Linked DNA regions of Homo sapiens: all the other regions are linked to region 3. Evidence: fine-mapped expression QTL. A gene starts in region 3. Each other region holds a variant in brackets. All regions are shown on one strand. Distances are between the middles of the regions.

Region 1 (6,421 bases), 300 kb after region 3:
GAAACAGTAAAACTGTTTCCCCCCCAACAAAAAAAGAAAAAAGGCCGGGGACAGTCAAATCAGGTTGGGCAACATCGTGAGATCCCATCTCTAAAAAGAATTAAAAAAAAAATTAGCCAGGCATAGTGGCATGTGCCTGTAGTCCCAGCTACTTACTTGAGCCCAGGAGGTTGAGGCTGCAGTGAGCCGTGCATGCGCCACTGCACTCCAGCCTAGGTGACAGAACAAGGCCCTGCCTCAAGAAAAAAGGAAGAGACCAGTGTCAGCCATCTTCCTGACATTCTGTAATTAATTCTGTCTCTGATTTCTGTATACCCTGCTACCTTTTTTTTTTTTTTTGAGACGGAGTTTCACTCTTGTTGCCCAGGCCGGAGTGCAATGGCGTGATCTCAGCTCACCGCAACCTCCGCCTCCCGGGTTCAAGGGATTCTCCTGCCTCAGCCTCCCAAGTAGCTGGGATTACAGGCATGCACCACCACGCCCGGCTAATTTTGTATTTTTAGTAGAGAAGGGGTTTCTCCATGTTGGTCAGGGTGGTCTCGAACTTCCGACCTCAGGTGATCTGCCGGCCTCGGCCTCCCAAAGTGCTGAGATTACAGGCATGAGCCACCAGGCCTGGCCCCTGCTCCCTCTTTTTTTTTTTTTTCTTTTTTTTGAGACGGAGTCTCGCTCTGTCACCCAGGCTGGAGTGCAGTGGTGCAATCTCGGCTCACTGCAAGCTCCGCCTCCCAGGTTCACGCCATTCTACTGCCTCAGCCTCCCAAGTAGCTGGGACTACAAGCACCCGCCACCACGCCCGGCTAATTTTTTTTGTATTTTTAGTAGAGACAGGGTTTCATCGTGTTAGCCAGATGGTCTAGATCTCCTGACCTCGTGATCCGCCGGCCTCCCAAAGTGCTGGGTACATGCGTGAGCCACTGCGTCAGGCCCCCTGCTACCTCTCTAACTACATTCTGTTCAAAGCTCAATGTTGAAACAATAAAAATATATTTTATGCACACCTTTTGTTTTTAAAGCCAGGCAACAAAGTAACTAATGTATGTGCTATGGTGGTATTTTTATTGCTGGACAAAGAATTACTATGGTGTGTCTTCCACTGGTATCTGCTTTCACCCAGCCCAACCAGTCCGTGTACTGATGTTTTGAACTATCCCTGAGACTCGAGTCAAGCACCAGTGTCCTCAAAAAGGACGCAGTATAAGGCAAGGGCAGGATGCAGATGTTTTGAGGGGCAGGCAAATGGGGAAGTTAGAAATAAGATTTCCCCCCAAGATTTTCACTTAAATCCCCTGGAAGACTGTTTTATAGACTTTTATAAACGCTGAATAAAGTGTCACAGTTGAAGTGCTCATATACTTTTGGGGAAGTAATGCATCTTTTAAAAATAGCAGGTTTTTATGTGAAAGTCTCCCTCAGTGTCAGAGCCTTCTGACTGCTGTTCAATGAAGCTGTACAGGACAGGTGGCCTCTTATACAGCAGGAAAGGCTAAAATTACTGCCCATGTCAGCTGAGAAGTACAAAGCAGGGCCGGGTGCAGTGACTCATACCTGTAATCCCAGCACTTTGGGAGCCCGAGGCAGGTGGATCGCTTGAGCCCAGGAGTTGGAGACCAGCCTGGCCAACATGGTGAAACCCCATCCCCGCTAAAAATATGAAAATTAGCCAGGCATGGTGCTGCATGCTTGTGGTCCCAGCTACTCGGGAGGCTGAGGCACGAAAATTGCTTGAATCCAGGAGGTGTAGGTTGCAGTGAGCCAAGATCATGCCACTGCACTTCAGCCTGGGTGACAAAGCAAGACTGTCTCAAAAAAAAAAAAAAAAAAAAAGGCCGGGCGCAGTAGCTCTTGCCATTGCACTCCAGCCTGGGTGACAGAGCGAGACTCCGTCTTAAAAAAAAAAAAAGTGCAAAGCAAAGGCATAACGTTCTGTAAGGCAAAAACACTAGTTTTTAAATGAGACCCAGGTGGTGCAGTGGCTCACGCCTGTAATCCTAGCACTTTAGGAGGCTGAGGCGGGTATATCACCTGAGGTTAGGAGTTTGAGACCAGTCTGACCAACACGGTGAAACCCTGTCTCTACTGAAGTTATAAAAATTAGCTGGGCGTGGTGGCACATGCCTGTAATCCCAGCTTCTTGGGAGGCTGAGGCAGGAGAATCGCTTGAACCTCGGAGGCAGAGGTTCCAGTGAGCCAAGATCGCACCACTGCACTCCAGCCTGGGCAACAGAGCAAGACTCCATCTCAAAAAAAAAAAAAGAAAAAAGAAGAAATCCTGATGTATTTGCTTAACCCTGTGAGGGGTATGAAGCTAAGAAAACATAATTTTAAAAATATGGTTTACTGTAATCTTAACAATGTTGTCTGTCCTTTTTTTTTTTTTTTTTTTTTT[G/TG]CGGTTCCCTGTAGCTGGGACCACAGGTGTGAGCCACCATGCCCAGCTAATTTTTGTAGTTTTAGTAGAGACAGAGTTTCATGGAGTTTCACTCTTGTTGCCCACTCTGGAGTGCTGTGGCACGATCTCGGCTCACTGCAACCTCTGCCTCCCAGGTTCAAGTGATTCTCCTACCTCAACCTCCCAAGTAGCTGGGATTACAGGCTCCTGCCACATATCCAGATAATTTTTGTATTTTTAGTAGAGAGAGGATTTCACCTTGTTGCCCAGGCTGGTCTCGAACTCCTGGCCTCAGGTGATCCGCCCGCCTTGGATTCCCAAAGTTCTGGGATTACAGGTGAGAGCCCCTGCGCCCAGCCAGGTCTCAAACTCTTGGCCTCAAGTGATCTGCCCGCCTCGGGCTCCCAAAGTGCTGGGATTAAAAGGGTGTCCTTGGGTTTTTATCTACTTCTCAAAGCTGGTAAAAACAAGGCAAGTCTTGTTCTAATACTGAAGAAAGAATAGTGTGGTGGTGAGGGGATGGGCGCAGGAGGCAGACTGACTGGGTTTGATCTACAGCTTTCTCATTTATCATTTTGAGACTGTGGACAGGTTATTTAATTGCTTTGTGCCTCAGTTTCCTCATCTGTAAACTGGGGATGAAAATAGTACCTACTTCACAGAGTTGTTCTGAGGAATAGATGAGATGGTAAAAGAGCTTAGAACAATGCTGGGCACACAGTCATTGTTGGTCACTAGTAGTAGTTATGAGTTAACATTACCATTAGTATCACTGTTGTAACAAAGCTCTGTGAGAACAAGGACTTGTTTCATTTGTCACTATACTCTCAGTGCCCACCCCAGTGCCATTCTTTTTGAATAAGTAAATGAATAAATGAGAAACTTAAATCATTGAAAATGAAAACAACAAAGGACATTATCAAGAAGGTGAAAAGAACCTACAGAATGGGAGAAACCATATATTTGATGAGCACAGAAACTAGAATATATGAAAAACTCTTACAACCCAACAACCAATTTTAAAATGGAAAAAGGACCTGAATAGACATTTCTCCAAAGAAGAAATACAAATGGACAACAAGTCTATGAAACACGTCTATGTTCAACATCCTTATTCATTAGGAAAATGCACTTCGCATCCACTAAGATGGCTATAATTAAAGAATCCCCAGAATAACAAGTTTGGTGAGGAAGTGGAGAAATTGGAATCCTCATATATTGCTGCTACTGGGAATGTAAAATGGTACAACTACTGTGGAAAACAGTTTAGTGGGTTCCTCAACGAGTTAAACAGAATTACCATATGATCCAGCAATTCCACTCCTAGGTAATATACCCCAAAGAACTGAAAACAGGTACTCAATTACATGTATGTGGATGTTCATAGAAGCACTGGTTCACAAGAGCCAAAGGCTGGAAATAGCCCGAATGTCTAATAATGAATGAATGGATAAACAAATTGTGGTAGATACATACAACGGAATATTATTCATCCACAAAAAGGAATGAAGTACTGATGCATGTTACAATGTGGGTGAACCTTGAAAATATTATGCTAAGTGGAAGAAGCCAGACATAAAAGTCATGTATTGTATAATTCCATTTATGTGAAATATATGGAATAGGTAAATCCATAGAGACAGAATGAAGATTGGGGCTTCCCAGGGACTGGAGGGAGTGGAAGGGGAATAGCTGCTCGCTGAATTCAGGGTTTCCTTTTGGGGGGATGAAAATGTTTTGGAACTAGATAGAGATGGTGGTTGTACAACACTGTGAATGTATACTAAATGCCACTGAATTGTTCACTTTAAAATGGTTAATTTTATGTTATGTGAATGTCATCTCAGTTAAAAAATGTGCTTTTATGAAGAAAGAAGTAAACCAAATCTGTGATTAATTTCTTTTCTTTTTTTTTTTTTTTTTTTTTGAGACGGAGTCTTGCTCTGTTGCCTAGGCTGGAGTGCAGTGGCATGATCTCGGCTCACTGCAAGCTCCACCTCCTGGGTTCACGCCATTCTCCTGCCTCAGCCTCCCGAGTAGCTGAGACTACAGGCGCCCACCACCACGCCCGGCTAATTTTTTGTATTTTTAGTAGAGACGGGGTTTCACCGTGTTAGCCAGGATGGTCTCGATCTCCTGACCTCGTGATCCACCTGCCTTGGCCTCCCAAAGTGCTGGGATTACAGGTGTGAGCCACCATGCCCGGCCAATCTGTGATTAATTTCTAGATCAATCATACCTCTTAGAATTAGGAACCTAAGTAACTTTACACAGCCAAGAACCGAAGGAAACTAACAATGAGGTTCTTGCGACCACCAGTCTCTCCAGGTTTCAGGGGGCCAGGGGAGGAGGTGTCACGCATTCAAAGCCTTGTCCATGTCTGTTCGGTTTGGTCAGTTAGGGCCACTGTTTCCCTGCACTAGCATCTCTAGAGGATTCCACTGTGTTAGTGCGAGAGTTCGCTCAGCTACAAGCCCCACTGTTGTACTTTGGGGCTGATGAACCATACTTTCAACTTCGCTATTAATATATGAAATGATCATTTGATTAGCAAGTCAAGTTAATTCCAGGTTCTAGGTCAAGTAGACAAAAATTGTATTCTACAAATGACCATTTTCCAAATTCATAAACAGTTCCATTTTACCATGGACTTGATTCTTATACGTATTTGTTAGCATATTTTCAGCAATTTTTTTTTTGAGATGGAGTCTCCCTCTATCACCCAGGCTGGAGTGCAGTGGCATGATCTGGGCTCACTGCAACCTCCGCCTCCTGGGTCAAGCAATTCTCCTGCCTCAGCCTCCCTGAGTAGCTGGGACTACAGGTGCGCGCCACCATGCTCAGATAATTTTTTTTTTTTTTTCTGAGATGGAGTCTCACTCTGTTGCCAGGCTGGAGTGCAATGGCATGATTTCAGCTCACTGCAACCTCCACCTCCTGGGTTCAAGCTATTCTCCTGCCTCAGCCTCCCGTGTAGGTGGGACTACAGGCGCATGCCACTACGCCCGGCTAATTTTTTGTATTTTTAGTAGAGATGGGGTTTCACCGTGTTAGCCAGGATGGTCTCGATCTCCTGACCTCGTGATCCGCCCCCCTTGGCCTCCCAAAGTGCTGGGATTAAAGGCGTGAGCCACCGCGCCTGCCTGAGATAGGGAAAACAAGGACAGGCTTTGGGAAGAAACTCAAGAATTCTGGCCATAAATTTAAGATGTCTGTTAGACATCCACATGGGAAACCACTTAGGGAAAAAGTATACAGAGATGAGAAGGAAGAGGGTGACCTAACAGTCTGGTAGAGAAACAGGAGAAACAAGCAAAGGAGACTAAGGCAAAACCAGACGGTGGGAGGAAAACTTCTATCACAGAAGCCAACAAAAGAAAGTGAGGGAGTGATCAACTGGGTCGAAAGCAGCTGGGAGGTCAAGTAGGAAGGAAATGGTAAAGAAATGAATAGCTGGGGGGCAACTTGGGGTCAAGGAGGGGTGTACATCCCTAAATGCTATAATTTTACCTTTTTGGTACATGTCTTTTAAGTCTCTTTTAATCCATAAATTCTCAAAGAGGGGCTCTTTTAACAATGGAAGATAGAGAGCATATTTGCACGTCAATGGAGATGGTCCAGCAGAGAAAAAGGGAGAGGTGAGCTACAGAAGGGAAGTCTTTGAGGGAATGTGCTTCAGAGAATAAGCAGAAGAGAGGGCCTGTGATAGGAACCAGGGACACTCTCATAATGGGAAGGAGAGCAGAGGACGTGGCTAACCTGACTCACTGGTCAGGCAGGTTGGTGGGGGAAGGTAGCGTTCTTCATAGAAAAGGAGGTGACACCACCAGCAGCTTCCTCCATCACTGACACCCACTGTAAGATAAACAATCGCCAGGCCCCCTAAGCCCCTCCGCCTCCTGTTGTCCTGAGGATGCCACTTTCCCTGTAGCTTTCTAAGGGAAGGATGCCAATAACCTCCCACTCTGCCCCACACACATGCCACATGGGAGTGGAGTGGGCACCCCTGACCCTTCTTCCAAGACATTCAGT
Region 2 (6,421 bases), 93 kb before region 3:
TCCAAAATAACGAAAATAACATCTCAGTCTTTTTTTTTTAGTATTTATTGATCATTCTTGGGTGTTTCTCAGAGAGGGGGATGTGGCAGGGTCATAGGATAATAGGGAGAGAAGGTCAGCAGATAAACACGAGAACAAAGGTCTCTGGTTTTCCTAGGCAGAGGTTCCTGTGGCCTTCGGCCCTGTTTGTGTCCCTGGGTACTTGAGATTAGGGAGTGGTGATGACTCTTAACGAGTATGCTGTCTTCAAGTATCTGTTTAACAAAGCACATCTTGCACCACCCTTAATCTATTTAACCCTGAGTTGACACGCACATGTTTCAGAGAGCAGGGGGTTGGGGGTAAGGTTATAGATTAACAGCATCCCAAGGCAGAAGAATTTTTCTTAGTACAGAACAAAATGGAGTCTCCTATGTCTACTTCTTTCTACACAGACACAGTAACAATCTGATCTCTCTTTCTTTTCCCCACATTTCCCCCTTTTCTTTTCGACAAAACCGCCATAGTCATCATGGCCCATTCTTGATGGTCGCTGTCTCTTTGGAGCTGTTGGATACACTTCCCAGATGGGGCAGCCTGGCGGAGGCGCTCCTCACTTCCCAGACGGGGCGGCCGGGCAGAGGCGCGCCTCACTTCCCAGACGGGGCGGCCGGGCAGAGGCACCTCACTTCCCAGACAGGGTGGCAGCTGGGCAGAGGCGCTCCTCACATCCCAGATGATGGGCGGCCGGGCAGAGGCGCTCCCCACCTCCCAGAGTAAGAGCGGCCGGGCAGAGGCGCCCCCCACTTCCCAGACAGGGCGGCCGGGCAGAGGCGCTCCTCATATCCCAGATGGGGCGGCCGGGCAGAGGCGCTCCTCACTTCCCAGATGGGGTGGCCGGGCAGAGGCGCTCCCCACATCCCAGACGGGGCAGCCGGGCAGAGGCGCTCCCCACCTCCCAGACGATGGGCGGCCAGGCAGAGGCGCTCCCCACCTCCCAGAGGGGGCGGGGCAGAGGTGCTCCTCACCTCCCAGACAGGGCGGCCGGGCAGAGACGCCCCTCACCTCCCAGAGGGGGCGGCCGGGCAGAGGCGCCCACTTCCCCGACGGGGCGGCCGGGCAGAGACGCCCCTCACCTCCCAGACGGGGCAGCCGGACAGAGGCGCTCCTCACCTCCCAGACGGGGCGGCCGTGCAGAGGCGCTCCTCACCTCCCAGACGGGGCGGCCGGGCAGAGGCGCTCCTCACCTCCCAGACGGGGCGGCCGGGCAGAGGCGCTCCTCACTTCCCATTCGGGGCAACCGGGCAGAGGCGCTCCTCACTTCCCATTTGGGGCAACTGGGCAGAGGCGCTCCTCACTTCCTCCCAGACGGGGCGGCCGGGCAGAGGTGCTCCTCACTTCTCAGATGGGGCGGCCAGGCAGAGGTGCTCCTCACATCCCAGACGGGGCGGCCGGGCAGAGGCTCTCCTCACATCCCAGACAATGGGCAGCCAGGCAGAGACACTCCTCACTTCCTAGATGGGGTGGCGGCGGGGCAGAGGTGCTCCTCACTTCCCCGACGGGGGCAGCCAGGCAGAGGCACTCCTCACTTCCCATTCGGGGCAGCTGGGCAGAGGTGCTCCTCACTTCCTCCCAGACAGGGCGGCCGGGCAGAGGCGCTCCTCACTTCCCAGAGGGGGCGGCCAGGCAGAGGCACTCCTCACTTCCCATTCGGGGCAGCCGGGCAGAGGCGCTCCTCACTTCATCCCAGACGGGGCGGCCAGGCAGAGGCGCTCCTCACTTCCCATTCGGGGCGGCCGGGCAGAGGCGCTCCTCACTTCCCAGACGGGGCGGCCGGGCAGAGGCACACCTCACATCCCAGACGATGGGCGGCCGGGCAGAGACGCTGCTCACTTCCTAGACGGGGTGGCAGGCAGGCAGAGGCTGTAATCTTAGCACTTTGGGAGGCCAAGGCAGGCGGCTGGGAGGTGGAGGTTGTAGCGAGCCGAGATCATGCCACTGCACTCCAGCCTGGGCAACATTGAGCATGAGTGAGCGAGACTCCGTCTGCAATCCCAGCACCTCGGGAGGCTGAGGCGGGGAGATCACCCGAGGCCAGGAGCTGGAGACCAGCCTGGTCAACACGGTGAAACCCCGTCTCCACCAAAAATACAAAAACCAGTCAGGAGTGGCGGCGCGTGCCTGGCATCCCAGGCACTCGGCAGGCCAAGGCAGGAGAATCACCGGAGCCCAAGGCAGGGAGGTTGCGGCGAGCCGAAGATCTCAGTCTTTTAAAATACACATCTAATTTCCTTGTAGGGGCACAAGTGAAAGAACACTAGAAAACTAGGTAAATGCAAGGTTATCGCTGTAAGTGAATACCTGGGCTTCGGAAGCCTCATTGTTCTTGAACTGTGGTTTCTGGTACAGATGGAGAACAGAGACCACTGGCTGCTGAAGCTGGTGCTGAGGGGGGCCAATGGCTGTTCTTCGGAGGTTAATACAGGGAAAACCACTTGATTTGCCAGAGGAGTCTGGGAGGGGAGCAGATGGCCGCAAGAAGGGCCCTCTAGCTTACTCAGCTGCTCTGAGAAGCTTAGGGTGACCTCTATAATACAAACAAACCAAGTAGTTCTCAGGGTAATGGGGCAGCATCATTTGTATTCCCAAATAACAATACTGCTCCTCACTTTGCAATCTCTCGCACCCTCACCCAGTGTTTGGGCACCATCTGCTTCTTGTGAACTTATATAGGCCCCAGGCGTGGCCAGTTGGGATTGCTATTGAATGATATCTTTGGGAAATGTGTTCTTTACAAATTACTTTCACATGAGTCTGATAGGCAGCTAAGTAGTATTATGTCTATTTGCATAATTAAGAAACTGAGGCAAAGAGGAATTGAGGGGTACTAGAATTACAACTCAAGCATTCTGATTCCTAATCTGTTTGTATCGATAGTATATGGAGCCATTCCAGTGCTCTTGTTTAGGCAGTTGTTACCCAGCTTTTGAGAAAGGCTTTCTGGAAAGGAAATTAGTTATTTTATAGATGTCACTCTCATTGTTTTAATTGTTCTGGTTACTGTTTTGCTAAGTGACAAAAAGGAGAGAAAGAGTGGCTGCTTTACTTCTGCTGGTATACTGCTGTGGCCTTCCGGGAGACAGGAATTAAGTGAGAAGGTCTAATTTATACTATGCAGTTTCATCAAAACCAAATTTATTCAAGAGGAAGCTTTCTCAGTCAAAGAAGTTACTTAGTTTATATATTTGCATATCCTTTTTAACTGACTATAAGAAAAAATATTCTTTTCATAAACCACATCTCTTCTTTTCCCTGCTATTGGCTGAAATGATAATCATTTTCATGCATTAACACCTGCCTAGGGGCCTGGTGAATCAAAAGAGCAATGAGAAAAGTGGTTTTAATTGCCCAAGCTTTACTAGAGCCTTTCTTGCACTCAGAAAAACAAAAGGCTTTGAATGGTGTCAAAGGGCTGCACTGAGAAGTGCTTTCCTTTAGAACTCTAAGCAGATGATTCACTCATGTCCTGATACATTTTCTTGTA[C/T]AGATGAGTTCATGAGCCCACCTTCATTCCAACTATGAGAGCATCACAGCACTTGTCAGTTTCAGTTACCTTGAACATTTGCCCAGGAAAACAGGCAAATGTCAGAGTTTACTGACTTGTTATTAGTGCAGGACTCTCTGTCTTTGTAGAATTACACTTGCTAATTACCTTTACAAAGTTTTGTATACAAATTTAAACTTCAGAGTCATATTTAATATATTGTAGTCCTTAAGAATATAGGCTCTGGAGCCAGACTACCTGTGTTCAGATCCCAACTTTACATTTTACAGGTTGTGTGATCTTAGACAAGTTCTTCTATCTCTCTTATCCTAGTTTTCTTATCGGAAACAGGGAAATAACAACAGAATCTACTTTGTAGGGTTGCTTTGAGCATTTAATTAGTTAATTAGTTAATACATGGGAAGCACTTAGAATACTATCTGTCATGTAGTAAGTATATCCAGTAAATGTTGGCTGATAAAAACTGCTTGTATTTTATATTTTTGAAAATAGGTTATAAAAATTGGCAGAAGCATAACAGGCATAAATATCAATTATGAGCCGGGCATGGTGGCTCAGCTCACACCTTCAATCTCAGCACTTTGGGAGGCCAAGGCAGGAAGATCAGTTGAGACCAGGAGTTTGAGACCAGCCTAGGCAATATAGCAAGACTCATCTCTACAAACATTAAAAAAATAATAATTAGCCAGGTATTGGTGGCGCATGCCTGTGGTCTCAGCTGCTTGGGAGGCTGAGGTGAGAGGATCACTTGACCCTGAAGGTCGAAGTTGCAGTGAGCCGTGATCATGCCAGTACATTCCAGCCTAGGCGACAAAGCAAGACCCTGTACCCCCACCAAATAAATAAATAAATAAATAATTTAAAAATCTATATACATACATTATGGAAAATAATCTTGGTGTTTCAATATTATACCAAATATACAAATTATTGTTACTTTGCTCACCGTCTCAGTAAAATTATTTAATTACTGGCTTATTTTAATCACAAATCAGGAATTTTATAAACATGCTTAATCCTCTGTGAACTGTAGATATAAATATGTAAAAGATTCAGTTTAGTGTTCATTTATTCATTCATCCATACACAGTCAGTTATTAAGTCCTTACCATGTGCCTGAGATGAAAATATAGAGATGAAAAAGATATACATAACTCCCTTATTCAAGGAACTCACAATCTAAAGGGAAACGATAAATGTGAAGACAATTACATTGATGTCAAGTACTATAATGGAGATATGACTGATGAAAAATGAGTGCTTAGGAAGAAGCACTTAACTAGCTGTCCAAAAAGATGAGGGAAGACTTCCCAGAGTAGGGGCTCATTTGAGTCAAGAATTAGCATGAGAAGGAAATGAGAAGGTCATGCCTGGTATAGGAAACTTCACATGCAAAGGCATAAAGGATAAGAAAATGGAGAAAACAGCATAGTCAAGAATCTGCAAATAGTTTGGTGTGTTTGGAATGTGGGAGAGTGGTATGAAGCAAGTCTGAAGAGATAGAAAGAAATCATATTGTAAGAAGTTTGAACTTTATCTTGTAATCAGTGGAGAACCATTGAATGATTTTAAGCAATTCAGTTCAGCAAACACTTTTATAAATGTTTACTCTATGCCAGACTGTTAGGTAACAGAAATATAAAATACATAGTTCACAGTTTTTTTTTTTTTATTATACTTTAAGTTCTAGGGTACATGTGCACAATGTGCAGGTTTGTTACATAGGTATACATGTGCCATGTTGGTTTGCTGCACTCATTAACTCGTCATTTACATTAGGTATTTCTGCTAATGCTATCCCTTCCCCTGCCCTCCACCCCACGACAGGCCCTGGGATATGATGTTCCCCGCCCTGTGTACAGGTGTTCTCATTGTTCAACTCCCACCTATGAGTGAGAACATGCGGTGTTTGGTTTTCTGTCCTTGTGACAGTTTGCTCAGAATGATGGTTTCTAGCTGTATCCATGTCCCTGCAAAGGACATGAACTCGTCCTTTTTATGGCTGCATAATATTCCGTGGTGTATATGTGTCACATTTTCTTAATCCAGTCTATCACTGATGGATATTTGGGTTGGTTCCAAGTCTTTGCTATTGTGAATAGTGTTGCAGTAAACATACATGTGCATGTGTCTTTATAGTAGCATGATTTATAATCCTTTGGGTATATACTCAGTAGTGGAATCTCTGGGTCAAATGGTATTTCTAGTTCTACATCCTTGAGGAATCGCCACACTGTCTTCCACAATGGTTGAACTAGTTTACACTCCCACCAACAGTGTAAAGCATTCCTATTTCTCCACATCCTCTCCAGCATCTGTTGTTTCCTGACTTTTTAATGATCACCATTCTAACTGGTGTGAGATGGTATCTCATTGTGGTTTTGATTTGCATTTCTCTGATGACCAGTGATGATGAGCATTTTTTCATGTGTCTGTTGGCTGCCTAAATGTCTCCTTTTGAGAAGTGTCTGTGCATATCCTTTGCCCACTTTTTGATGGGGTCGTTTTTTTTCTTGTAAATTTGTTTAAGTTCTTTGTAGATTCCAGATATTAGCCCTTTGTCAGATGAGTAGATTGCAAAAATTTTCTCCCATTCTGTAGGTTGCCTGTTCACTCTGATGGTAGTTTCTTTTGCTGTGCAGAAGCTCTTTAGTTTAATTAGATCCCATTTGTCAATTTTGGCTTTTGTTGCCATTGCTTTTGGTGGTTTAGTCATGAAGTCCATGCCTATGTCCTGAATGGTATTGCCTAGGTTTTCTTCTGTGGTTTTTATGGTTTTAGGTCTAACATTTAAGTCTTTAATCCATCTTGAATTAATTTTTGTATAAGGTATAAGGAAAGGATCCAGTTTCAGCTTTCTACATATGGCTAGCCAGT
Region 3 (6,421 bases):
ATCTCAGGCTACAGAGGGCCTTGCTACAACCACTAATCTTTCTTGACTGTACTTCTGCTGCCCTCCAGTGGTCACTCCAGTCCATGCAGGACTTAGCCTGAAAGCTCCACAGGACCACCTTCACTCAACCCATCCCAATCCTCACCATGGGCACTGGTGCCAGGCCTGCCTCCCGCAACCTGGCCTTCACTTGCTTGGCCACATCACGGATGTAAGGCAGTGCAAACTTGTTGAAGAGCTGTGGGCCAAGATGCCCTGCATGGGACTCAAACAGCTGCAATGCCTAGTTAGGGTATGGTGAAGAAAAATATGTAACACACAAAGAGGAAGTTTCCCCCACATACAAAATCCACCTCAATTTTCCCCAAATGACTTCAATCCCTGATACTGCCTGACCCTAAAAACCCAGTAATTAAAAAAAAAAAAATTTACTTTCCTCAGATCCCAGCACTAACTTTGGTGTCTGAATACTTAGAGCATTAAGCCCCACTGTCAGTGTCAGGATGGGCTTGGCTGCTCCGCTAGATCACTGGAGGCCAAGGTTCTTTCATCCCTGGCATTAAGACCCCTGCCCTCTCAGGTTTAGGACACTCTTGCTTCTGGTCCTTACAGACCAAATCCCAGCCTATTTCTCTCTCTCTCAGGACTCACCTGGGCACCAGCCACCACTTGTCCTACCAGATATGGGACCAGAGCATCAGTGAGGATGCGAAGCAGCTGGTGACTAGCCTGAGGTCTCTGATAGAGCCAGCGCTTGGCCTGAGCCATGGTGCTTGAGCCACCACCCTCAACCATGTATGTCATCAGGGTCCACTAGAGAAGGATAGAAAGATGGTGTCACAGAAGCCAGACTGACCCTTCCTTTTGTCTACCCCAGACCTTCCAGAGTGATCTCCCCGCGCCCCGAGTCCCTGCCCTGTCCCACATTACTGGGGCACCAGCAAAGCCAATCAGCGGCACACGTCCAGCCAGTCGTTGTCGGGTAAGGGTGATGGCTTGGAACACATAGCCTAGCTCAGAGGCTACCACTTCTGGATCCCGTAGGCGTTCTAGGTCCTGCTCTTCTCTTAATGGCTCTGGGAAGCTGGGTCCTTTGCCAGGTACCATGGTCACCTCCATGCCCAGTGCCTGGAGGGGGAGAAAACATCTGGGTTCCCAAAATGGAATCCAGGAGGAAAGGTTCTGTTCAGCTCATTCCAGGAGGAAGGAAAAGGAGAATAAAACTCTGCCAAACTCCATTTCTTTCAACCTTAGTTTTTCCCTCGATCCAGTTAGGATAAGTGCTTATTGTAAACCTTGACTGGACTGATAGAAGGATTTTCAAGGCGTCCTTGGATTATATTCTAGGATCAGGTTTGAGTGGGTACCTGGGGTACAACAAGGATGTCGGAGAAAATGATGGCAGCATCCAGAGGGAAGCGACGCAGTGGCTGTAGGAAACAGGAGACAGGTTGCTAGGTGGCAGACTGAAGGCATAAATCTTTCCCTCTTTTGTGGACCCCTCACCTGCAGAGTCAGTTCACAGCAGGCCTCAGGAGAGCGACACGTGCTGAAAAAGTCCTGGGCAGCCCGGGTTTCCCTAAACTCTGCATACAGAGGGAAGACAGGGCTCAGCCTTGAGGCCCTCCAGAGCCCTCCCCTGCCCCTCGAAAACTTTTCTCCCTCCGGAGTTTTATCTAGATTTCCAGACCCTGACTCTTACCTGGTAAGTAACGGCCTGCCTGGCGCATGCACCAAACGGGAGTGTAGTCTGTTTCCTCTCCCCAGGCTGCTCGCAGGAATGTGTCATTCTTCAGCTCCGGAAAACCCTGAGGTCTGGCGATCAGGTGGGGGTGGGGGTAGGTGTCAGTATGCTACGCTGGAGGCTGGGGAAAGCGCGGGTTCATAAGGCCGATTCAGTCCAGGACCGCTATCTACCTCCTCCAGGCCAGCTCCCAAACCCTGGCTTTCCGCCCGTTCCGCCTCCTCTCTGCCTATCAGGTGGTGCACAAACTCCAGAAGGGCCCGCCCTGGGGCCTCTTCCCTCCACTTAGTCTCTACTCTTCCAAGCTCGAAGCAACCAGAGGGACTGGGGGGAGGGAATGAAGGCCCACTAAGGATAGTTTGGGGGTCTTCGAACTAGTGAGCCTCAGAAACGGGAATGTCACTGGGCTGGTTCAGGGGCTGAGAAATACCCAGGCTGGGGGATAAAGAGGGATCAGAGTTGATGGTCCCAGAATAGAGATCCTGGTTGGAAATCCTGAGGCATCCCTTGAATTAAGGCCCTGGGATGAACATCTCAAAAATCCATGGTTTTAGGATTCAGGATCCCAGCTAACGGAGTTCAGGTTGGGAGGTCTCCAGGGTGGGGAAAGGGGAGTAGAGGGATAGAGTCCTGAGTTGGAAGACTCAAATTAGAAGCCCGGCTAGCCACACCGCGTGCTCTGGAGAACTCACCCCAACCCATTCGCTTCCATGGTCAGCTGTCTGTAACTGCGAGCTCAATCCACAATTTAACCTGAATCTGAGCCTGCCCCCCAGTCCAGGCTCCGCCCCTTTCTGTAGGGAACCAAGAGCGTCGCCATGTTGAAGATCACATGATCGGACTCCAGCGACAGCTCCAGGGCTGCCCTGGCTGCTGCCCGTAGGACCCCTACCTTTTTTCACCGTAAAGTTTGCTGTAGCGACGCAACAACAAAGGCCCAAAAGAAAACTCCGCTGTAAATGTATCTTACGGTGACATGAGGAATTTGTTCTCATCTGACAGTCTGGGTATCCGGAGGCTTGGCGCAAGTCCCACTCATGATACCAACAGTCTTATCCAGCCAGGTCCATACTATAGCCTGGACCTATAGTAGGTGCAGAGGTTAGCTCTGCTCAAGACAGCCCCAGCCTTTAAGGAGCTACAAGACTGGGGAAACAGAAATCAGCAATCACATTAAAATGAATAATGATCTCCAGTGTCCTTGGGATTAGGAGTGACAAACAGAATCAACCCTAATGACTCAAGACTCCTGTCAGTGGCAGGGGAAGGGGCCATTGTCTCAAACACTTTAATCACACCACCCATAGGATAGGGAGTCCAGCAGATTCGCTGGGAGTGGGAGGAAAAACAGCAGGCCGAAGAACCAGAAAAATGACTGTTGGCAATGACCCAGGCTAGCTAGAATGGTGACTTGAATGAGGGTAGTAGCAGTAGAGATAAAATGGTAGTCACAAGGAAATGGAGAGAGGGAGATTGATCAGGTAGCAATCACCAATCTTGGGTTTGGTCGGCTGGGTTAGGGTGGCACAGAGATAAGTAATATGGTTGAGTGTGGGAGTACACAGTCCAATACAGTGAGAGCTGGGGTGCGCTTAGTCCAGAACATACGGCAAAGGCTGGCCAAAGGCGGGGAAGGGCGTGGTGGGAAGCTCTGTCCGCGGTCGCGCCAGCTGTTCCCCGGGCAGGGTCGCCTCTAGGTGCTCACCTCCGCCACTTCGCCATGGCGGGTCCTGGCCCGGGCGCGGTGCTGGAGTCCCCCCGGCAGCTGCTGGGCCGCGTGCGCTTCTTGGCAGAGGCAGCGCGGAGCCTCCGCGCCGGGCGGCCGCTGCCAGCAGCGCTGGCTTTCGTGCCGCGAGAGGTGCTCTACAAGCTTTACAAGGACCCAGCGGGACCGTCGCGCGTGCTTCTGCCGGTGTGGGAGGCAGAGGGCCTGGGGCTGCGTGTGGGCGCCGCAGGCCCAGCCCCCGGTACCGGCTCCGGGCCCCTCCGCGCCGCCCGCGACAGCATTGAGCTCCGGCGCGGCGCCTGCGTGCGCACCACGGGCGAGGAGCTGTGCAATGGCCACGGGCTCTGGGTGAAGCTGACAAAGGTGCGCTCTTCCCTGCCCAGGACCCGGTAAAAGACCCCTGGGGCCAGAGAAACCTCTGGCTGTTTGCCTTTTCTCCCCTGTATTGAGTTGGCATTGCGTTCGGCGCCCTTTGCCCTGGGCTGGGCACGACAGGCGGCTGGGCAGTTCCCTGACGGCTGTCCCCATCCTACGCGTCCCGGCAGGAGCAGCTGGCAGAGCACCTGGGCGACTGCGGGCTGCAGGAAGGCTGGCTGCTGGTGTGCCGCCCGGCGGAGGGCGGAGCCCGCCTGGTACCCATCGACACTCCCAACCACCTCCAGCGGCAGCAGCAGCTCTTTGGCGTGGATTATCGGCCGGTGCTCAGGTACTGCACTTGAAGGAGCGGGGCTGGCTGTCAGAAGGCCGGGCCAGGAGGGCTTGGGAACACTTCAGCCACAGCCTGGGGTGGGTGGGATACTGGAGCGGAGGCAGGGTTAAGAGCAGAAAGGGGCGGGACGTGAAGGGGGCTCGGAGGGAGACTGGGAGATAGAGCCCTGAAGAAGGCTACACGGCATGGAGGTAGTGTCTTGCTGACCGCTGATGTCTCCCCATCCCACTCCCTACTCTGTGCCCACAGGTGGGAACAGGTGGTGGACCTGACATACTCACATCGCCTGGGATCGAGACCTCAGCCGGCAGAGGCATACGCAGAAGCTGTACAAAGGCTACTGTGAGTGAGCTGGAATGGGGTGGGGAGGAAGGAGCTCTGCGTCTGGGCCCAGTCTAATTAGGGGCTTGGGGTTGCTTAGCTATGTACCCCCGACATGGACCTACGAGTGCGACGAGGACCTGATCCACTTCTTGTATGACCACCTGGGCAAGGAGGATGAGAACCTGGGTAGCGTGAAGCAGTATGTGGAGAGCATAGACGTTTCCTCCTACACGGTGGGTGCTGGGGCTCCTCCCACCCCAGGCAAGATATAGTCACACCCCTCAAGGCTAGATCCAGAAAGAACCCCCACCTGCAGGCCAGGACTAAAACAGGGTCCCCACAGGCCACACTCAGTTCAGCTCCCCATCTTGGACGTCTATAGGACCCCTTACATACCCAGCGGCCCCCTATCCCATACCAGTTGCCTGTTAGCCCAACTTCACTATGCTTTCTCTCTGGTGCTCCTGGCCCAGAGCACAAGCCCAGTGCAGGGAGGGAGGGTAACTGCTGACTTCACGTCTCTGCCCCTCCCCAGGAGGAGTTCAACGTGTCCTGCCTGACAGACAGCAATGCCGATACCTACTGGGAGAGCGATGGGTCCCAGTGCCAACACTGGGTACGGCTTACTATGAAGAAGGGCACCATTGTCAAGTAAGTAGGCTCTGGGCAGGACAGGGTGGGTGGGCTATGTCCCTGTGGGTTCACAAAGACTCATATTCACACTCTGACCCTTCAGGAAGCTGCTACTCACAGTGGATACCACAGATGACAACTTTATGCCAAAGCGGGTGGTGGTCTATGGGGGTGAAGGGGACAACCTGAAGAAGCTGAGTGACGTGAGCATTGACGAGTGAGCACGCTGGCCTGGGGAGGGAAGTAGGGCATGTTCCAAGCCTAGCCCAGCTTGAAAGCCTAAGTTTGAGTGAGACTCCAGCAGTCTCTGAAGGCCTGAGGCAGGAGGTATCTGAAGTGCTTCACACTCATCTCCTCAGGACCCTCATCGGGGATGTCTGTGTCCTGGAGGACATGACCGTCCACCTCCCGATCATCGAGATCCGCATCGTGGAGTGCCGAGGTGAGGTTTAAGGCTATAAGGAGGGAAAGAGAGCCCGGCGTGGAGATGGGGGCAAACAGAGAGTGTGTGTGGAGAGAAGAGGATGGGCTTGGAGTTGGGGTGAAGGCGATGCTGAACTAACTCCAGGATTTGGAGCTTTGGGGCCTGAGCCAGCTGGGACATGCCAGGTATAGGCCTGCCTTAAAGCCATACAGGTGGTTGGGCTCACCTGGAAGAGGAACTGAGTTGGGACCCTCAGGCATCCCAGCATTCTAGTGGAAGACAGAGGAATCAGCAGGAATAGATCAATCAGAATCAGGTGATAGAAGGTGATCCCGAAGGTCCCGAGTTTCTAGGGGCTAACGGTGACACAAGGCTGAGCGTTCAAGGAGCCGGTCCCAGGTCTGAGGGCCAAGGAGGCAGCAGGTGCTGTAAATGACCTTACTCTGACCCCTTCCCCCAGATGATGGGATTGATGTTCGTCTCCGAGGGGTCAAGATCAAGTCATCTAGACAGCGGGAACTAGGGTTGAATGCAGACCTGTTCCAGCCAACTAGTCTGGTGCGATATCCACGCCTAGAAGGCACCGACCCTGAAGTACTGTACCGCAGAGCTGTCCTCCTGCAGAGGTGGCTGTGGTCCTGGACCTATGGGCCCTTCCCTTCCCCCAACATTGAGCCTTGTGTGTCTGCATGGAGGAGGTTCCCAAGGTCTCATAGTATAAGCTGTTCAAGGGTCAGAGAAGCCCCCAGGTCCTGCCTTTTCCTGTCCCTTTATGTTGGGGAGTTGGGGGTGTTACAGGTATGCTAAACTCTTTAGCTGCAGTCTATCTACCCATGCCAGATTCATCAAGATCCTCGATAG
Region 4 (6,421 bases), 110 kb after region 3:
GTCAATATCTTTAAGTCTTTGCTTTGGAGCTGGCCATATAGACTTCAGAGAAAAATCTTCCAATCTCCTGCCTGGGTGGGTAAAAGCTGTGCTGCCAATTCCTGATCATTTCAGGGCTCCTGAGATACAAATCAAGCTGCTTCTTAGCTTTCCTTATAGATGGTTTAGGATTCACCTTTCTTGGATATGCTAAATCTGTTACCACCACCATCCTTTTGTTTTCCAGCTTCCAAAATTTTGTTGTCATCTCTTCTTGTGGTCTTTGTCCTTGTGGGTTTATGTCTTTAAAAAAAAAAAAAATCTGTACTGACACTTCAGTGAGTTTTCAGAAAGAGGATGGGTTAACGCTTATGTTTAATCTGCCATCTTTACCCAGAATCCTGTTTCCTTATTTCAGCCTCAAATCTTTCTAGTCCCTTACTACCACCACTCCTACCCTCTCTTTTTTCTCTCCCTCTCTCTCTCTTTTCCCCCCTCATTTCCTTCTTCATCCAATCTAGGTCCTGTGCCTTCAGGCATTTCTCTCCAAGTCCAAAGTCTTTAGGAGAAATATTATGCACGGATATAAATTGGCAGCACTATAAATTCATGGCTCCTATCTTAGCTGAACCCTCAGAACCACTCTTCATTCTTCCATTTGTCCTGGGCCAGCTTTCCACTCCTCTCAGAAGCTGTTCTCTACCATCACCATTCTCCTGTCAAAACATGGGCCTGCTGATTTCCCCAGCTACCCCATCCATGACTTTGCCTTTATTCAGACCCACCTTCGATTCCTTTCCTCCAGCATTAGAAGAAGTTTGGGGCCAGTCCCTTCATTTATGCCTTTTACCCCCTTTCTTCTGCCACTCCTGGAACCTTTTCTCCATTAGTTTTTTCAACATTCTCCAGAATTTTCAACTTTGCTTTCCACTATCTCTTTATCCCAAATCTATAAATACATTGCTTGTAGAATAAAGCACACATTCCTAAAGCCCTCAGTTATCTAATCATGCTTACCCCTCCAGCCTTATATCTCATCTTTCTCTAACACAACCCCATTCTCAACATTCTATCAGTAGCTATGAAAAATTGCTTATAGTTCTGTTAACTTCTGCATTCCTTGTAATGTCTTTGTCCTTTTACTTTTCACCGTTCCTGGTAATCCTTCAGCCAAAGTTACTCTTCTCTCCCTGGCTAAGAACTTATTTTTCTTTCAAGACTCAGCTCAAATATCATTTTTCTGTGAAGATTTTTCTAATCTTTCCTGTCATAGGCAGAACCGTGCTTCTTCCTTTGTGCTCCCCTATATACTGAAGAAAGTTCTGTGGTAACATTTATAACCCTGTATTGCTCTGGACTATAAGTTACATAAGGATAGTGGTTGTATTTTGTCTTTGTAGGCCTAAGGTCTAATACATGGCCTGACATAGTAGGATCCCAGTAAATTTGTTGGAAGAGGACATTAATGGAGCCAGAGTGTCACCTTGTGTTTGAATGTGCTTTGGCAACAGAGTCTTTATAGGCAGAGCTGAGACTTCTTAATCTTGTGAATTGGAGAAAGGGCTGGAACAGCATTATTTGCACCACATTCTTCAGATCAAAGCAGTCATAAGCCCAGCCCAGAGTCATGAGATGCAAAATAGACTCTACCTCATGATGGGAGGAGCTGCAAAGTTACTTTACAAAAGGATATGAGTACAGAGAGGGGAATAATTGTGGCCATCTTTTTTTTTTTTTTTTTTTTTTTTTTGAGATGGAGTTTCGCTCTTGTTGCCCAGACTGGAGTGCAATGGCGTGATCTCGGCTCACTGCAACCTCCACCTCCTGGGTTCAAGCGATTCTCCTGCCTTAGCCACCGAGTAGCTGGCATGCACCACCATGCCCGGCTAATTTTGTATTTTTAATAGAGACAGGGTTTCTCCATGTTGGTCAGGCTGGTCTTGAACTCCTGACCTCAGGTGATCCCCCCACCTCAGCCTCCCAAAGTGCTGGGATTACAGGCATGAGCCACCGTGCCCGGCTGTGACCATTTTTAAAACAATCTACTGTAGTCCCAACTACCAAAGCATTTTTTGTTTGTTTTTGAGAAGGAGTTTTGCTCTGTCGCCAGGCTGGAGTGCAATGGCACGATCTTGGCTCACTGCCACCTCTGACTTCCTGGTTCAAGCAATTCTCCTGCCTCAGCTTCCCAAGTAGCTGGGATTACAGGCACGCCCCACCACGCCCAGCTAATTTTTGTATTTTTAGTAGAAATGAGGTTTCACCATGTTGGCCAGGATGGTCTCCATCCCCTGACCTCGTGATCCACCCACCTCGGCCACCCAAAGTGCTGGGAGTACAGGCATGAGCCACCGCGCCCAGCCACTACCAAAGCATTTTAAGCAGGGAATGACACAATCAAATTTGCCTTCGAAAGATAACTCTGGATACAATATGGAGAAAGGATTGGAGTTGGGTAAGAGAGGATGCAGAGAGACCAAGTAAGGGAAGGTATTGTAGTAATCCAGGTAAGAAGTAATGGTAATTTGAACTAGGGTATTGACAGTGGAGTTGGAGAAAAGTAGATAAGTTAGAGAAGGATTTAGCAGGTAAAATCTGAGGACTTGGTGTTTGAACCTTGGGGTTGAGAAGTGTAGTGGTGTCAAAAAAGACTCACATTTCAGGTTTGAGCAGCAGGATAATAATCAGATAGGAAGCACTGGGTTTGTGGCAGGGAGATCCGAAGTTCATTTGGGGATCCAGGTAAACAGGAGTAAGTCATATATAGACTCGGTGTTCAGAGGATAGGACTATGCTTCAGATATAAATTTGTAAGCATTAATATATAGATGTCAACTTAGTGTCTTGTACATACCTGGTACTTAGGAGAAAGTTATTTGCCCAGCTGTTGAACCTCAAGGGTGGGGAATGTCTGAGCTAGGTTGTTTCATAATATCTTTTATCCCGGGCACGGTGGCTCATGCCTGTAATCCCAGCACTTTGGGAGGCCGAGG[T/C]GGGCGGATCACCTGAGGTCAGGAGTTCAAGACCAGCCTGACCAACATAATGAAACCCTGTCTCTACTAAATACAAAAAATGAGCCGGGTATGGTGGCGCATGCCTGTAATCCCAGCTACTCGGGAGGCTGAGGCAGGAGAATCGCTTGAACCTGAGAGGCGGAGGTTGCAGTGAGTCGAGATCGTGCCACTGCACTCCAGCCTGGGCAACAAGAGTGAAACTCTGTCTAATTTAGTATAACTCTAGCCATGCAGAAGCTGAAACAAAGCTTTGAGGCATGAACTCCTGAGTGATCCTTCACTGAACCTTTGCCGTGACCATCTCCTACACAACCAGCTTGGAACCAGGCCTGAAGACAGTAGGAATATTGCTTGTGTACTTGGGATAATTCTGGTCAAGGCTGTCACAAGGCCAGCCTAGATTCATGAGACGAGAAAATAGACTCTACCTCATGATGGGCATGACCTGCTGAAATGTCATATTAGCTAGACCAGTGAGACTAGAGTGGAGTGCAAATTAATGTGTCAGTTTTCCCCACCCAGAGTTGTATGGGCCAGACAGCTTAGAAGGATAGCTTGAAAGATGTAACACTCTTGGGCTTATCTTTGAGTAGAAGCTTCTTGTCAGTGGTGCTGTGCAGAATGCTTTCTTGAGCACCTCTTGGGGAGTGAGATGCTTCTAGATCTCAGCAGGTTCTGGCACGCTGAGTTGAGATGGGTGAGGGTGAACAGCAGTGTGATTCTGCCTAGGAAGGCTTTGCTAATTCCTGTGTTACTTATTAGACATGTGGCTCTCATTAGTCTGTGTGATGGTTAGTTTTATGTATCAATTTTGCTAGTCTGTAGTACCTATTTATTCCATCAAACACTAATCTAGGTGTTGTTATGAAGGTATTTTTGTATGTAATTAATATCAACAATCCATTGATTTTAAGTAAGAGAGATTATCTTGGCTAATCTGGGTGGGCCTCATCCAATTAGTTGATAGGCCTTTAAATCTAATCAGATCAGAGAACCAATTCCAAATAACACAGAACAAGTTCAGCAAACCCATCTTTAAGATTTTTTTTTTTCCAGGACCACTTCTAGTAGCAATTTTTATATCAGAGAAACAGAAATGCTGTGAGTCATAGAGAATAAAGGATTTATTACACAATTACGGAAGCTCGTAGAGTAGTGTATGTATGCTGTTGTTTCTGTGTCTAGTGTTGAGCCTGAAATCACTATCAGTCAGCCAGACCATCAGTCAGAAAGGAAAGCTGGATCTGGACAAGAACAAGAACAAACCCACAAGGTCACCTAAAAACTGGACCTGGAGCAGAACTTGGAACTCTTAAGAATCCTTCCACTGTTGGCAGTCTCTGCTGCTTTGAGTCCAGGGTTTTCACCTCAACACAACTGCTTTTTTTGGAGAGGGCCTGAGCACCTCAGGGCTATGGTGTCATAGCCTACCCTGCTGAACAGGCAGACCTCTAGTTTGATAACTCCATATGCACTCCTAACAATCGAGAATCTGTTATTCCTACCACTTACAGTGTGACCAAGATCAGGCATTGGGATGGTATGGTTAGTGCCTTCCTATGTAGCAAATACCAGATAGCCACACCACAGGTGCTTGCCCCAGCACCTCTTGTTAAAATTATAGGTAGCTAGTAAGTAGTAGCCATAGGTCATTCCCTTTTCCCTAGTTCTGAGAAAACTTGATTATTTCAAGCATATCTTGGTCTCTAGTTTCTTCTAAATTGCAGTGATTAGGGAGTAGTGAATTAGCTCTGATTCTTTTAGCGGGAGAGAAGATGCTTCTTTGTTGGAATATGTTTAAGATTGCCAAATCTGGCTGGACATGGTGGCTCATGCCTGTAATCCCAGCACTTTGGGAGGCCGAGGTGGGCAGATCACGAGGTCAGGAGATCGAGACCATCCTGGCTAACACGGTGAAACCCCATCTCTACTAAAAATACAAAAAATTAGCCGGGCACGGTGGCAGGCACCTGTAGTTCCAGCTACTCAGGAGGCTGAGGCAGGAGAATGGCATGAACCCAGGAGGCAGAGCTTGCAGTGAGCCGAGATTGTGCCACTGCACTCCAGCCTGGGCAACAGAACGAGACTCCGTCTCAAAAAAAAAAAGATTGCCAAATAAAGTAGAAGGTGATTATCTGAAGGTCTTCAAATAGAGGAGTTGTTTATGTTGCTGCATTGAACACTGCAAGATAGTTAAGTTACTGTAGGAGGCTTTTATCCTCATCTGAATTGTTATCTCTGGTTTTATGAATAACTGTTTCAAGCTCCAGTTCCACTGGCATCTGAATTCAGAAGCCATCCATGACACTTCCTTCTCTGTTAACATTCATATTCATGCAAAGAGAAGCCTGTGATAAAATTAATTTTCTCTTGTATTTGACTTTTTTTTGTGCAACTGGGTTTTCTTCATTCTGTTCTCACCCAATACCATTCTCTGGTCCCCAAACTTTGAACTTAGCTTGGTTAGGAAAAAGTCATTCTGTGCAGCCATATAAGCTGGCAGGACACACTCAGTTTTTTGGGTTTTTTTGTTTGTTTGTTTTGTTTTTTTGAGATGGAGTCTGCCCTGTCTCCCAGGCTGGAGTGCAGTGGCATGATCTCAGCTCATTGCAACCTCCACCTCCCGGGTTCAAGCGATTCTCCTGCCTTGGCCTCCTGAGTAGCTGAGATTACAGGTGTGTGCTACCACACCTGGCTAATTTTTTTTGTAGTTTTAGTAGAGATGGGGTTTTGCCATGTTGGCCAGGCTGGTCTCGAACTCCTGACCTCAGGTGATCCATCCATGTCAGCCTCCCAAAGTGCTGGGATTATGGCATGAGCCACCACACCTAGCCAACACACTCAGTTTAAATTAATGATGGCTTTCCTTTCTCACTGAGTAACTGTGGACTATATCAACATGCATACCAGTTCTCCCACTAGGCTAGAAATTCTTACGGTCTCATTCACAGCAATGCTGAAAATCTAAATGTGTTCACACAGGGTGTCTAGATGAATTTCAGTTTTTAAACATGCAGCTACTATAAACTGCTTCTTTGCCTGTCAGCTCTTTTCTACCCACCCTTCTAGGAACTAAGCATTGTACAATGAGCATATTGGGGAATAGAACTCCCAGTTGGCTTCTGCTGTACTTAGGCAGTGAGCAGGATAAAAACAACTCAGTTCCTCCCACACACATGATGATGCTGGGAATGGGGAAGAAGGGAGCAGACTTCAAGAACATTTGGCATTGCCCTGAGCCTGGGGACCTTTGTAGATTTGAAGGGAATGAGGATCTGAAAATCCCTGGAGATCTTTTGGGGGAAAATTAAAGATCTTGTTGTTAACTAAAGACCTTTTTTTAGAGTCACTAAGAGCTTTGGACATGTAAAGTACTAATTTTGTCTTTCATGGACATATTTCCTTCTTTCAAGGCTGCCTTTCAGAAC
Region 5 (6,421 bases), 270 kb before region 3:
TTCTCCCCATCACTTTCAGGTACACCAATCAGACATAGATTTGGTCTTTTCACATAGTCCCATATTTCTTGGAGGCTTTGTTCGTTTCTTTTCATTCTTTTTTCTCTAAACTTCTCTTCTCACTTCATTTCATTCATTTGATCTTCCATCACTGATACCCTTTCTTCCTCAGTATCCGAATCGGATACTGAGGCTTGTGCATTGATCACGTAGTTCTCATGCCATGGTTTTCAGCTCCATCAGGTCCTTTAAGGACTTCTCTGCATTGGTTATTCTAGTTAGCCATTTGTCTAATTTTTTTAAAAGGTTTTTAACTTCTTTGCCTTGGGTTCGAACTTCCTCCTTTAGCTCGGAGTAGTTTGATCGTCTGAAGCCTTCTTCTCTCAACTCGTCAAAGTCATTCTCCATCCAGCTTTGTTCCTTTGCTGGTGAGGAGCTATATTCCTTTGGAGGAGGAGAGGCGCTCTGCTTTTTAGAGTTTCCGGTTTTTCTGTTCTGTTTTTTCCCCATCTTTGTGGTTTTATCTACCTTTGGTGTTTGATGATGGTGACGTACAGATGGGGTTTTGGTGTGGATGTCCTTTCTGTTTGTTAGTTTTCCTTCTAACAGTCAGGACCCTCAGGTGCAGGTCTGTTGGAGTTTGCTGGAGGTCCACTCCAGACCCTGTTTGCCTGGGTATCAGCAGCGGAGGCTGCAGAACAGCTGATATTGGTGAACAGCAAATGTTGCTGCCTGATCATTCCCCTGGAAGTTTTGTCTCAGAGGAGTACCCGGCCGTGTGAGGTGTCAGTCTGCCCCTACTGGGGGGTGCCTCCCATTTAGGCTATTTGGGGGTCAGGGAACCACTTGAGGAGGCAGTCTGTCTGTTCTCAGATCTCAAACTCCGTGCCGAGAGAACCACTACTCTCCTCAAAGCTTTCAGACAGGGACATTTAAGTCTTCAGAGGTTTCTGCTACCTTTTGTTTGGCTATGCCCTGCCCCCAGAGGTGGAGTCTACAAAGGAAGGCAGGCAGGCCTCCTTGAGCTACAGTGGGCTCCACCCAGTTCGAGCTTCCTGGCCGCTTTATCTACTCAAGCCTCGGCAATGGCAGGTGCCCCTCCCCCAGCCTCGCTGCTGCCTTGCAGTTTGATCTCAGACTGCTGTGCTAGCAATGAGGGAGGCTCTGTGGGTGTAGGACCCTCCCAGCCAGGCGCAGGATATATTCTCCTGGTGTGCCGTTTGCTAAGACCGTTGGAAAAGCACAGTATTAGGGTGGGAATGACCCGATTTTCCAGGTGCCGTATGTCACCCCTTTCTTTGACTAGGAAAGGGAATTCCTTGACCCCTCGCACTTCTCGGGTGAGGCGATGCCTCGCCCTGCTTCAGCTTATGCTCAGTGCACTGCACCCACTCTCCTGCACCCACTGTCCAACACTCCCCAGAGAGATGTACCCGGTACCTCAGTTGGAAATGCAGAAATCACCCGTCTTCTGTGTTGCTCACACTGGGAGCTGTAGACGGGAGCTGTTCCTATTCGGCCATCTTGGCTCCACCAACCAGTGTCATTAACTTTAAAAAAGATGGTCAAAAGAGAAGTAGGGGTAGTTCTTGACTTAATTACAACCTGTAATTTTGTACATTACACTTTGATATCTCTAAATAAAGCTTTTTTTTTTTTGGGATGGAGTCTGGCTCTGTCGCCCAGGCTGGAGCGCAGTGGCACGATCTCTGCTCACTGCAAGCTCCGCCTCCTGGGTTCACGCCATTCTCCTACCTCAGCCTCCCAAGTAGCTGGGACTAGAGGCACCTGCCAACACGGCAGGCTAATTTTTTTGTATTTTTTTTTTTAGTAGAGATGGGGTTTCACTGTGTTAGCCAGGATGGTCTTGATCTCCTGACCTCGTGATCCACCTGCCTCAGCCTCCCAAAGTGCTGGGATTACAGGCATGAGCCACTGCACCCGGCCTAAATAAAGCATGTTGAATGTTTGCACATCTGCTGATAAGTGAACATTTTTATCTCATACTGTGCTAAGCAATTCTGGTTTTGCCAACTTTGTCAGTACAAGATGATTTGTACAGCTATTTGATTTTTTTGTGCATTTTACTGGTATTTTATATAAATAAGTGGGAAATGGAAAAATGAAGTTGCTGATAGTGGTGACAAAATGCATATTTTATAAATTTATTACAATTGAGATCCAATAGCCACCATTAAGTTATGCTGAAAATGCTGACTCTTCATGCTAATTTGGATGCCCATTGGTGTTTATTCAGTTCATTCTGTGTTGATTTGCAAGGGAAAAAAATTAAAGAACATGTACTCATACAACCTAATAGTGAGAAAACAATAACTAAATTTAAAAATGGGCAAAGGAGTCTGGGCACAGTGGCTGTTGCCTGTAATCCCAGAACTTTGGGAGACTGAGGTGGGAAGATCGCTTGAAGCCAGGAGTTTGAGACCAGCTTGGGCAACATAGTGAGACCCTGTCTCTATAAAACACAACCCCCCCTTTTTTTTTTTTAGATGCAGTCTCGCTCTGTTGCCCAGGCTGGAGTGCAGTGGCGCCATCTCAGCTCACTGCAAACTCCACCTCCCAGATTCAAGCGATTCTCCTGCCTCAGCCTCCCAAATAGCTGGGATTACAGGCACACACTACCATGCCCAGCTAATTTTTGTATTTTTAGTAGAGACACGGTTTTACCATGTTGGCCAGGCTGGTCTCAGACTCCTGACCTCAAGTGAGCTGCCTGCATAGACCTCCCAAAGTGCTATGATTACAGGCGTGAGCCACAGTGCCTGGCCTCTACAAAAAAAAATTTAAAAAATTTGTCAGACATGGTGGCATGTGTCTGTAGTCCTAGCTACTCAGGAGGCTGAGGCAGGAGCATCACTAGAGCCCAGGAGTTCAAGGTTGCAGTGAGCTATGATCGCAGCACTCTAGCTTGGGTAACAGAGGGAAACCCTATCTCAAAATCAAAAAAAGAAAGAAAGAAGAAAGAAAGAAAGAGAGAGAGGAAGGAAGGAAGGAGAAAAAGAAAGAAAGAAAGAAAGAAAGAAAGAAAGAAAGAAAGAAAGAAAAAGAAAGAAAGAAAAGAAAAGAAAAAGGAAATTGTAAACTTTGTGAAAACACTTCAAAATGTTTTTTATAAAATACTGAAAAGGGAAACAACAAAAATGACCAATATGTTAGGGGTTAAACATATGACATTTTCTAGAAGATTGGGGCTGATGAAATATTTACTTTGCTAATCTGCAATGTATATGGGAATGCTATGGGAAAATAGCATTAGAATCAACAACACAAATAATTATTAAAGTATTAGTGCCATAGTGCATAGTTACCTGTTTTTACCTTAAGACCACATCTCGATAAATGTGAGCATTCCTTTCTCTAAATTTGCTACTTACGATGTGAAAGCAGCTCTTTTCCAAATGATCTAGAGTATAATTTTTAAGAAATCAGAAGAATTGTGTTGTTAGCTATTAGCTACTATTGAAGCTATTTCACTTGCAAAGGAAGGAAAGCAAACCCACAAATGTTGAGCAAATGCCAAAATGCCAAAAAGGTCTTACAAAATGGTACAGAGACCACAGGGAAACAGCTGTGTTTCTGACAAGCAGCGTGCTCCATCCTGGAAATACAGGAATTAAAGGAGTTAATGAACATGAGGAAG[G/A]AAAGGGAAGTATGATCCAGTCTTGGCTAACTTTCACCTTGGAGGAGCTAATAACAATTCTAGAAATAAAGCAGCAGGAGGAGAAACTACTGATAAGGGTAGCTCAAAATTTGAGGCCCGTGAGATTAAATCTGAGCCAATTTTGCTTTATTTTTGCTGAAGATTTTTTGCAGAGATGAATGCTGTTTGTATTTGAGAGTTGAGAAGACATAATTTACTTATTTATTCAGTCAGCAAATGTAAGAGGTGCTGGGGATCGTAATGTTTGAGGGAGACTTGAAGTTTCGTATGATGGATGGGCCAAGTGACGGTGCTGGGGATTGTGTGGGGTGTTCCAGGCAGAGGGAACAGTGTATGGAGAGGCACAGAGGATGGGCAGATGGTGATGGTAAAGGAATGATTTTCTCTATGTAATAGTGGGAAGGAAAAATGTTGCTCTTCAGAAAGATAATTCCTGGCTTATTATCACTTCCAGGGAAGGGACAACATTCGCAGCACGGATAGGTGGTTCTTTTTTGTTTGTTTTTTCGCTCTTGTTGCCGAGGCTGGAGTGCAATGGCATGATCTCACTCACTGCAACCTCCACCTCCAGGGTTCAAGCTATTCTCGTGCCTCCGCCTCCCGAGTAGCTGGGATTACAGGCATGCGCCACCACGCCCAGATAATTTTGTATTTTTAGTAGAGATGGAGTTTCACCATGTTGGTCAGGCTGGTCTTGAACTCCTGACCTCAAGTGATCCACCCACCTCAGCCTCCCAAAGTGCTGGGATTACAGGCGTGAGCCACCGCGCCTGGCCAGGTGGTTCTTTTTATTGAGGAAACAGCCAGTGATTCTTGGGAGGGGTAAGGAAGGGAGGGGGAGGTATGAGATAAAGAGAGCAGAATTGCTCTGCTCAAGAAAGGAAGAAGTGAGAGGAATTTGGAGTTTGGGGCAGCCTGGGGGAATAGGCCTGAGAAAGTTGGAGAGAGGGGGTCAGTGAGGAGAATAAATGAGAAGATGGGAAGGTCCAAGGAAGAACCTTAGGTCAAATAGAGAAGTCATCATGAGCTGGAGAACAGGAGAAGCAGAGATAAGGGGAACACGAGATTTTTCCAAGGAATATACAAAACACAAAGTTTTTTAGCACAGACTTCCACATTGTGTGGGACAGGGCTTGAGTAATTTTTTTTTTTTTTTTTTGACACTGTGTCTTGCTTTGTAACACAAGCAGGAGTGCAGTAGCATGATCATGGCTCACTGCAGTCTCAAACTCCTGGGCTCAAGTGATCCTCCTACTTCAGCCTCCAGAGTAGCTGGGACCACAGACACCCACCACCATGCCCAGCTAATTTTGTATTTGTTTTTTTGTGGAGACAGAGTCTCATTATGTTGCCCAGTCTGGTTTTGAATTCTTGGCCTCCAGTGATCCTCCCACTTCAGCTTCCCAAAGTGCTGGGATTACAGGTGTAAGCCATCACTTCTGGCCTGAATTTTTAAAAATTTTTATTTATTTATTTTATTTTTTATTTTTTTTGAGGCGGAGTCTCACTCTGTCACCCAGGCTGGGATGCAGTGGCGTGATCTCGGCTCACTGCAACCTCTGCCTCCTGGGTTCAGCAATTCTCCTGTCTCAACCTCCCAAGTAGCTGGGACTACAGGTGCGCACCACCACACCTGGCTAACTTTTGTATTTTTAGTAGAGATGGAATTTTGCCCCATTAGCCAGGCTGGTCTTGAACTCCTAACCTCAGGTGATCCATCCTCCTTGGCCTCCCAAAGTGCTGGGATTACAGGCGTGAGCCACCGTACCCAGCCATTTATTTATATTTTCATGGACAGAGTCTTGCTCTGTTGTAAGCTACTTAAGAGACAGGGGTGGGAGGATAGCTTGAGCCTGGGAAGCGGAGGTTGCAGTGAGCCAAGATGGTGCCACTGCACTCCAGAGTGAAGACAGGGGAGACTCTGTCTCAAAAAACAACAAAAAAAAAAAAAAAAAAGAAAAAAGAAAAGGAAGAAAGAAAATCCCTAGATATAATGGCTGTGCCACTTTGAGTCTGCAGTGAGCTACGATTGTGCCACTACACCTAGGCTGGAATGCAGCGGCACAATCATAGCTCACTGCAGCCTCAAATTTCTCACCTCAAGAGGTTCTCCCCTCTTGGCCTTCCAAAGTGCTATGATTACAGGAATGAGCCACTGTACCCGGCCCCTATATTAGTTTTAAAATGCATTTTTCTATTTAAAAATGTCATTGGGATTTTGATAAGGATTGCATTGAATCTGTAGATTGCTTTGGGTAGTACAGAAAATTTAACAATATTAAGTCTTCCAATACGTGAACACGTGATGTGTTTCCATTTATAACTTCTTTAATTTCTTTCAGCAATGTTTTGCTGTTTTCATTGTATAAATCTTTCACTCCTTTGGTTAACTTAGTTCCTAAGCATTGTAAACGGAATTGTTTCCAGTTTCCTTTTCAGATTATTCACTGTCAGTGTATAGAAATGCAAGTGCTTTTGCATATTGACTGTATATCCTGCTACTTTGTTGATTCATTTATTAGTTCTAACAGTTTTTTGTGAAATCTTTAGGGTTTTCTACATATAAAATCACATTATTTGCAAACAGATGATTTTACTCCTCTTGTCCAATTTGGATGCGTTTTCTTTTTCTTGCCTAATTGCTCTGGCTAGAACTTCCACCATTATGCTGAAAAGAAGTGGTGAAACAGACATGGTGAAAGTGGGCATCCCTTCCTGCTGCAGATCTGGAAAAAAAAAAAA

What was found.
Region 1: its variant is fine-mapped to the expression of UROD in monocytes after Pam3CSK4 (Quach 2016, PIP 0.95).
Region 2: its variant is fine-mapped to the expression of UROD in whole blood (TOPMed, PIP 0.98).
Region 4: its variant is fine-mapped to the expression of UROD in whole blood (TOPMed, PIP above 0.99).
Region 5: its variant is fine-mapped to the expression of UROD in whole blood (TOPMed, PIP above 0.99).

The regions. Positions count from the first base shown.
Region 1 is chr1:44,708,504-44,714,924 of GRCh38, reverse strand. The region is part of intron 6 of ARMH1 (armadillo like helical domain containing 1); the gene reads right to left. All of the region lies in intron 2 of LOC105378690 (a long non-coding RNA gene), which reads left to right. Among named protein-coding and RNA genes, the nearest start is that of RNU5F-1, 10 kb to the left of the region's middle. RefSeq lists a silencer at 1,788-1,847. The variant G/TG (reference allele first, on the strand shown) is at 2,390.
Region 2 is chr1:45,100,834-45,107,254 of GRCh38, reverse strand. All of the region lies in intron 1 of ZSWIM5 (zinc finger SWIM-type containing 5), which reads left to right. Among named protein-coding and RNA genes, the nearest start is that of UROD, 92 kb to the right of the region's middle. The variant C/T (reference allele first, on the strand shown) is at 3,524.
Region 3 is chr1:45,008,301-45,014,721 of GRCh38, reverse strand. UROD (uroporphyrinogen decarboxylase) reads right to left here and starts at 2,468. Exons shown (of 10, transcript NM_000374.5): 1 at 2,437-2,468; 2 at 1,703-1,815; 3 at 1,507-1,586; 4 at 1,368-1,430; 5 at 931-1,128; 6 at 652-813; 7 at 146-283. The coding sequence starts at 2,456. It overlaps HECTD3 (HECT domain E3 ubiquitin protein ligase 3), which reads left to right and starts at 3,398. Exons shown (of 21, transcript NM_024602.6): 1 at 3,398-3,833; 2 at 4,016-4,176; 3 at 4,429-4,521; 4 at 4,601-4,736; 5 at 5,039-5,154; 6 at 5,240-5,353; 7 at 5,496-5,578; 8 at 6,021-6,186; 9 at 6,401-6,421. The coding sequence starts at 3,465. RefSeq lists enhancers at 425-961, 2,372-2,501, 2,542-2,591 and silencers at 3,352-3,481, 3,562-3,731.
Region 4 is chr1:44,903,199-44,909,619 of GRCh38, reverse strand. All of the region lies in intron 5 of EIF2B3 (eukaryotic translation initiation factor 2B subunit gamma), which reads left to right. Among named protein-coding and RNA genes, the nearest start is that of PTCH2, 63 kb to the right of the region's middle. The variant T/C (reference allele first, on the strand shown) is at 2,973.
Region 5 is chr1:45,279,680-45,286,100 of GRCh38, reverse strand. No RefSeq gene overlaps it. Among named protein-coding and RNA genes, the nearest start is that of LINC01144, 21 kb to the left of the region's middle. The variant G/A (reference allele first, on the strand shown) is at 3,659.